Linked DNA regions of Homo sapiens. The protein of the gene in region 2 purifies or fractionates together with the protein of the main gene of each other region. This does not show direct contact. Each region holds a gene or a part of one and is shown on either strand. Other genes may lie near its edges. The genes, in order: MFF and SPATA19.

The links.
Region 1: the proteins of SPATA19 (region 2) and MFF purify together in Homo sapiens (affinity purification with mass spectrometry; 2 studies listed by BioGRID and IntAct, with this or other methods). This does not show direct contact.

Annotation. Positions count from the first base shown.
Region 1 is NC_000002.12:227,335,077-227,338,892, reverse strand, and holds part of MFF (mitochondrial fission factor), read right to left. Parts: intron 1-3,816. UniProt on the Homo sapiens protein: Plays a role in mitochondrial and peroxisomal fission. Promotes the recruitment and association of the fission mediator dynamin-related protein 1 (DNM1L) to the mitochondrial surface.
Region 2 is NC_000011.10:133,842,506-133,846,880, reverse strand, and holds the start of SPATA19 (spermatogenesis-associated protein 19, mitochondrial precursor), read left to right. Parts: upstream 1-1,367; 5' UTR 1,368-1,434; coding exon 1,435-1,512; intron 1,513-1,690; coding exon 1,691-1,747; intron 1,748-2,240; coding exon 2,241-2,372; intron 2,373-2,543; coding exon 2,544-2,635; intron 2,636-4,318; coding exon 4,319-4,375.

The DNA.
Region 1 (3,816 bases), on a different chromosome or scaffold from region 2:
AAAACCCCCCACTAAAATAGCCATGGCAACATTATGGTTTTTTTTTTTGTTTTTTTTTGAGACAGAGTCTTGTTCTGTCGCCCAGGCTGCAATGCAGTGGCACAATCTCGGCTTGACTCACTGCAAACTCTGCCTCCCGGGTTCAAGCAATTCTCCTGCCTCGGCATCCTGAGTAGCTGGGATTACAGGTGTGTGCCACCACACCTTGCTCATTTTTGTATTTTCAGTGGAGACGGTGTTTCACCATGTTGGCCAGGCTGGTCTCGAACTCCTAATCTCATGATTTGGCTGCCTCAGCCTCCCAAAGTGCTGGGATTACAGGCGTGAGCCACTGCGCCCGGCCGACATTATGGTTTTTAAAAAATTAAACTTTATAGTAAAAAAACAAATAGTGTGTGAATTAAGGACTTGAAAATTAAGATTTTCAAAATATCAATCAATATTTATTGATGTTTTTGGTTGGGCACGGTGGCTCACACCTGTAATCCCAGGTGGATGTTTTTCTTTTCTTTTTTTTTTTTTTGAGACAGAGTGTCACTCTGTTCCCCCAGGCTGGAGTGCAATGGTGCTATTTCAGCTCACTGCAACCTACACCTCCTGGGTTCAAGCAATTCTCATGCCTCACCCTCCCGAGTAGCTGGGATTACAGGTGCATGCCATCTCGCCCAGATAATTTTTGTTATTTTTAGTAGAGATAGGGTTTCACCATGTTGGCCAGGCTGGTCTTGAACTCCTAACCTCAAGTAATCCACCCACCTTGGCCTCCCAAAGTACTGGGATTACAGGTGTGAGCCACCATGCCCGGCCTGGATGTTTGTTTTGTTTCAATCTGAGATTTTTTTTTTTTTCCAGATAGGGTCTCATTGTGTTGCCCAGGATGGAGTACAGTGGCACAATCTTGGCTTATGCAATCTCTGCCTCCCGGGTTCAAGAGATTTTCATGCCTTAGCCTCCTGAGTAGCTGAGATTACAGGTACACACCATGACCAGCTAATTTTTGTATTTTTTGGTAGAGATGGGGTTTCACCATGTTGGCCAGGCTTGGTGATCTCTTGACCTCAAGAGATCCACCCACTTCGGCTTCCCAAAGTGCTGGGATTACAAATGTGAGCCACTGTGCCTGGCCTCAATGCAGAATTTTAAAATGTCTTTCAGAATCATCCTTCAGTGGTTATGCACTTAGTTTTATTCATCCCGGAGGCTGAGAAATAGTTTCCTAAGTTCAAGCAGCTTCCTGGAAGTTGGGTCACAGTGTCTAGTGCTACATAGTTATATAACATGTAGCACTAGACACTTTGCATGCTTGCATACAATTCTCCTTTAATATGCTTACACCCCAAGTTAAATTTGATTGTTCATAAATTCCTGGGCAAGTAAATGTCCTCTAGGTTTTTTGATGGCTGATTCTCTCAATCTGTTCAAAGCCCACCTCTTCTTCAGGAATCTACTCAGAGCCTTCGTGTTTTTCCTCTATACTCACCCCCATTTTCTGTGGGACTTTTATGCAGAAGGGGGAAAGGTACAAATTATCAATGTAGACTGAACAGTTGGGATAAATATCTTCCCTCCCCAACATGTGCATTGTCCAAAATTTAAAATCACGAATCATGGGGAGAACAGTTAAGCCAGTGACTGCGGGTTTTGGGAAGGACACATAGCCCAATTTGTCAGGAGTGACGAGACCATGCTTGTGCTAAGAGGGCCATAAAACTGTAGCTGTACAAAGAACGCAAGTGTCCATCTCTGAATTTTCCATGCATGAATGTGTAAACATATATACAATTCAGCTTTTCCTCTTCTCTCCAGACTTTTGCTCCATTCTGCTCATTGCAGTCCCAGCTCCTCTTTCCAGAAGTGATGAGGAAGGAAAAAGAGCTCAAGAAACCATCACCAAAGTGTGATCAGACCCATATTCATGAAGTTCTTGATTTTCTAAGCTTCCACAGGACCCTTTTAAATATTCACTGAGTCCCTGGGAGCCCTTCTGCATTTGTTTTAGGATATGTCATATAGCTATGGTTTTTTGCTTCACATCCTTAGCGTTGTCATATCAATTGAACTGGGCACCAATAACCATCTGCTACTTCTTTACGGTAGAATTACAGGTCTAGGGCCTTCTGCTAGACATTCATGGCTTTTGTGTCATCCTTCAGATTCTAAGGCTGCTGCTTTCTAAGTATAATCTGTGTTAAGGGTGGATCTAGCTAGATATTTCTTCTACTCCTCCAGCTCTGGCTGTACACTTTGGATATAACTGCTGTAGAATTTGGCATCCTGTGGAGGATGCCATTTGATGGCTTCTGTATAAAGCTGGCATGGCTTGGAGATAGTTCCATTTCTGAAACCACTCAATGCCTTTACTCTTCTCCTCCAAAATCAGGTCAGATTTTATATATGCCAACTGATTTTGCTCTTTCCAGATTAATTCCTAACTATTGACGATTCTTGTGTATATCTGGGGTTCAGTGCTCTTCCAAAGATTTATTATAGAAATGAATAGTATTCTCGTATTTCTCCTCTTTGAAGTAAGAGATGCCAACTTGGGCAAAAGCTTTTACTCTCTATCTTTAGACCAGTCTGTTTTTTCTTCCAACTTCAATGGCCTTCTCACAAAGCTCTTAGGGTTTATTGTAGCTGATTTTTTCAAAGCATATCACGGCTTGATTGATAGGATTTAACGGCAGAGTCCACATCTTTGACTTAGTCACACTGTTCAAGGTTGTGTCAAATCTTCTTACAGGCAGCATTTTCCAACTCTTTCTTTACAGTTCTTCTTTCTTGTTCTCTGGAAGATCCTTCCCCACTGGCTCCAGTTCGGATTCCTTTTTGAGAAGAGCTGGTAATGTCAGTGTTACAGCTTCTTTCTCCTCATTCACACTGCCTAGTCTACTGTAGGAACACTGAAAACTGTCATGACTTGGGCATTTTGTATTTCATGCCCAGATCACATGGTTTATTGAACAGTTGCTTTGTTAGTTCCCAGCAGACAGAATCACCAAGCAATGGTCTTATCTTAGAGCTGATTTCCAAATATTGGTGGAGATTAGGCATATTGAAAGTGTTTGTCAACTTCCTCTCTTCCAGCCAAGCCTCACATTTTTAAACTGTCTTTGAGCTAAGGGATTATTTATGTTATGTTTTAAGCCCTCCTCAAGGGCTCACCTGGATTCTTTAAGCCAGTTTAAGAACTCAAGTACAACTGCTTTCTACAAATTTATCCCTTGCATCAATCAGGCTTTCAGACAACAATTTTATAGGCTTCCTCATAAGCCTTCTCCTTTCTTGAGATAGGTCAGTGGTTTTCAGTAGGGGGTGATCTTGCCCTGTAGAGAACATTTGGCAATGTCTGGAGGTATTTTCTTTTTTATTTTAAAACACACATAACATACACAATTTTAACCATGTTGAAGTGTACAATTCAGCGGCATTTAGTACACTCACAACGTTGTGTAATCATTACCACTATCTAATTCCGGAATATTTTCATCAGCCCAAAAGGAAACCCCATACTGATTAAGCAGTCACTCTCAAGTCCCCTCTCCTCTAACCCCCTGACAACCACTGCTCTGTATCCTGTCTTCATTCATTTGGCCACTCTGGATATTTCATGTAAGTAGAAAAATGCAATATATGGCCTTTGTTGTCTGGCTTCTTAAACTTTACATGTTTTCAAGGTTCATCCATGTTGTGGCATGTATCAGTACCTTTTTTTTTTTTTTTTGAGAGACAGAGTCTGGCTCTGTTGCCCAGACCGGAGTACAGTGGCACAATCTCGGTTCACTGCTACCTCCACCCCGGGGTTCAAGTGATTCTCCT
Region 2 (4,375 bases):
CATCTGCTATTTTACAATTTCCAGTCTTCCTTGGAATTAGGTAGGGGCCATAGGACTAGTTCTAGATCAAAAGCTCTAAGTAGGAGCCTCTGAGCTGAAAGGTGGAACACTGACCTGATTCCTCTCTGTGCTCTCTTCCCTGCTTTGGCAGTCATGGAGGTCGTGTCCTCTGAATGTGGACCTGTGAGTCTCCACATGGCACACAATTGCTCTGAAATTACCCAACTTGCACGAGAGCTTTTGAGAGTGAGAAATAAACATTTTGATTTGGAGGTTGGTTTGTTGCCTCAGTCCTCAGCAGAGCCTAGCCGATTCTGACTATGTCAGGGATGATATAAAATTGAGGCGAATTGTTGAGAGGGAAGACGTGTAGTGGCTGTATCAGGGGAATTGGAGAAAGTGATAAAAGGTTTTCTATAATCCTGAGAAGAATAAACGTGGGAAAATTTTTGGAATATTAGAGTTAGAAGAAAGCTAGGGACACAACTCTATCCCTTTCAGTATAAGACAAAGAAACTCAGACCAGAGGGACTAATGATTAGGTCAAGAGCACATGACAAGTTGTTGCGGGACAGGTTGTTACTGGTGGAGGGTGTTCAGGTTCTTGGCGTCTTAAACAAAGAAATGGACAAAACACACAAACGAAGGAAAGAATGAAGTAACAAAGGCAGAGATTTAACGAAAATAAAAGTACACTCCACAGGATGGGAGCAGACTGGTTACAGAATTTTCTGGGGTTTAAATACCCTCTAGGGGTTTCCCATTGGTTACTTGGTATATACCCTATGTAAATGAAGTAGTGGCTCATGATCAGTCTGATTGGTTGCGGAAAGTGACCAATCAGAGGCTGAAGTGAAGTTATAAAGTTATATCTCTATGCAAATGAAGACCTGGCCCACAACCAGCCTGATTGTGGGAGGGGAGCAATCAGAGATACTTTCAGTTTTTCATCTGCCATGCAGAAAAGGAGAGGGTTGCAAAGGGCGTAGCCTCTGGTCTTTTTGTTACTTGGGCACGGAAAGTTGGGGTTTTCCTTTTGATTTAGTTCTAGGAAGTCAGTGTAAATCGGCCTTAGGTTTCCTGGCTCCAGACCCCATCCTCCTGCCTGGAGGTGAGCTCCCAAATTAGTGCTTTCCCAAGAAAAGAATTCAAGGGTCAGCCAATGGTGTTAGACAGCAATCTTTTATTCAATGGTTCTGCTCCTTGAAGCAGGGTAACTCATAGGAGTGCACCCAGAGCCTGAAATGCAGGGGCTCTTGGCAACGGCATTTATACTCACATACATCATTTTCAAAGGGAGGCCATTGTCACATCACCATGGGTCAGCCAATCAGGTGGACACCTCCCTTCAATGACCTTCCTGTCCCATAGGAGTTCTCAGGCAGCTTCAATGGAAGGAGGGAGCCAAGAAGGGGGCCTGGTATACATTCAAAGATGATAATTACGACATGGATTGTGTATATTCTTGCTCGGAAAGGTGTAGGGCTTCCCTTCCTACCAATAACCAGTTCGGTAAGCAGCTTGGTGGTAGTCACATGGAATAATTTTTCATATATCTTCTCCCCCTGTGGGACCCTGCTGCACTTCATAGAGATCTTACAAATAAATTTGAGTAACAGTTGCGGGGGCTGGGTGGGAAGAGCTGAATTTCTAGGTTTTCTGAGGTCACCAACTTGCCAATTTGTTCCAGGACATTGACGTTGTGGAAAGTGAGGCTGTGTCTGTACTACATCATTGGTTGAAAAAAGTGAGTAAGATTTCTTTATGACTCAGGATATCCAAAATGCTAGAGAAGTGGTCTCAGTGGGTGTGGGGATCTGGACTTCCTTCTTCATGGAACTGGAACTCAAGTTCATTGCCAGACACCCTTCCTAGATTTGAGTCTAATTTCTTCACATGTGCTGGAGGACACTGTGGCTTGTGTCCTGGCAGGAAATGTGTTAGCACCACCACTAACGCCGTCCTGCTTCTCAAGCATCCTGGCTTAAGGGTTTCAGCTGCATCCTTCCCAGCTCAAGGGTGTCTCAGGAACACCTTGGGATAGGGCCAGGGACTTAGGGAGTTCTGAGGACTTTACAGGGAAGTAGCTTATTGTGGGAACAGTGAGGTAAGGAGTGTATGTGTGTGAATATGTGGTGTGTGAGTTGTGATGGAGAATGAATAAAAGGAAAGGAAGAGGAGAAGAAGACCCAGGGTTGGATGCAGAGTGACATTTTCAGAGGGAATTTCTCACCTTTCAGACAGAAGAAGAGGCTTCTCGGGGCATAAAGGAAAAGCTGTCCATCAACCACCCTTCCCAGGGTGTAAGGGAGAAGATGTCCACTGACTCCCCTCCCACCCATGGCCAGGACATCCACGTGACCAGAGATGTGGTAAATGAGAGTTTGAGACCTTGCCTGGGAGTAGCGGTGAGGGAGAGGGGAGAGGTGGGAGGTGCACCGTAAATGATTCTGGGCAAGGGTGAGGTGCTCGTCTGGGCTCTGTGCCAGCCCAGTTGGGGGCCACACTGGGCAGGAATCACATGGACCCTCTGGATTTCCCAGGTGAAGCACCACCTCTCTAAGTCTGATTTGTTGGCAAACCAGAGCCAAGAGGTCCTAGAGGAGAGAACACGAATCCAGTTCATAAGATGGAGGTAAGGTGTCCCACTTGCCCTGGGCGAAGGAAGGGGAGGGAGAGATGCGCAAGCCCCTCTCTTCACGAACCCTCAGATGCTCTTCTCTAGAGATGTCGTCTTTGGCTGACAAATTCCTCAGCCTTGCTTTGGGGTCTTAAGGGAATATCCTTGCTATCTTGAAAGCCCAGCTCATTTCTACATTTTTAAATGACTTGAGGGGTTGGAAAACTGGGCTTGCACTCCATTTCTTAAATGCTTCTGAATACATTTCAGATTTCTGTTATTTTTGCACTTGAGTTGCTCAGAAGTGGCTGCACTTTAAAGAGCTAAAAGAAAATAAGCTCTTAAAATGCAAAAGCCAAAGTTTTCATCTGCAACTGAGGTGTGGGGAGGCTTCCCAGCGCCCGAGGCTAGAATTCTGCACTCGGTTATGGTGGCTTCGCCAGCGTCCCGGGTGCCTGCCAGCTCACAGCCGTCCCCACTGCCTCTCGTGGCTCTGCAGATGCTGAGCCCCGAGGCCCAGGGAGCTGGCCTGAAGCCATCATGCTTCAGACAGAGGCTTTCCTATTTCCTTTCCTGCACCTGTGTTCACTGGGGGTCTCTGGAGCACATCAGCCACCCCTTCCCAGGAGAGGGACTGAGGGCTTAGACTGGTCCTACGGGAACCTGAAGGAGACTTCTCCCCTTCCTCCTCTCTTCCTCCTTTCCCTGCCGCATCATCGATGTTGATCTGTTGTATCAAGGAGGCTCCATTTCTCAAGAAACGGTTTCCATGTGCTTACCCCTTCTAGTGGCATCTGCCTTTTAGGAAGACTCAAATGCACAGTAATTTCATAACCAAAAGGAATAACATGGTGGGATCTGAGAGCTCCCTGGGAAAGAGTTTTTTTGGATGGGAAGCCTTCTGAGGCCCCTAAAATCATAAATGTTGTTGATTATAATCCAGGCTTTTCTGTGCCTGACGTGGTTGTGCTATGGAATTGCGGACATTGTGCTCCTTGGTTTGGATAACACACACATCATCTTCCAATATTTTAAAAATCTCGTCTGTATAAAAAAACTAGTTTTAAGCTTTTCAGACAGGCTACAGGAATCAGTCAATTATTTACATATAATTTTTCCACTCTGGATTTTCTACAAAGATTTTAAACCAAAAGCCTCCGCCTATCTCCCCCCACAACCCACTGGTTTTGGTGTCCCCCTCTTATTTCAGTAAGTATATAGTCAGGAAATATATATATCCCTTTATGAAACAAAGCAAGGAGGCTCCCCAGGGGACCCCACAGCTTCCTCGCTGTAGGCTTTCCTAGAAGCATCTCTGAACCACAGTGGGTGTGGGGTGATGCAGGTCATCAAGAGCTGATGATAGGAGAGGAATTCAGAAGACTGAATTCAGAAGGGTGAATTCCACGGCTCACGAGACCACTGCTTGCTGCCTTTAGTAAGGGCACTCAGCTCTGTGTCCCTGGCTCTCCCCGGGACAGTCTGCTACCTGTTCAGCATTACTGGGGGCTCAAGGGTACCTGGTTAGTAAAAAAAAGCTTTGTGCTCATGAGTCAAGAAGGGGGAGAGACCAGCTCAAAAGTTCATGGTGTCAGGGCAAGAGTCATTGTTTGCAGGATCCCATCTCTAGCAGCTCTCTATGCCTGTTAAGAAAGAAACTCAGATCCCATATGCCAATGTACGAATGGCCTTTTGCAGCCACACTCGTATCTTCCAAGTGCCAAGTGAGATGACAGAGGACATCATGCGAGATCG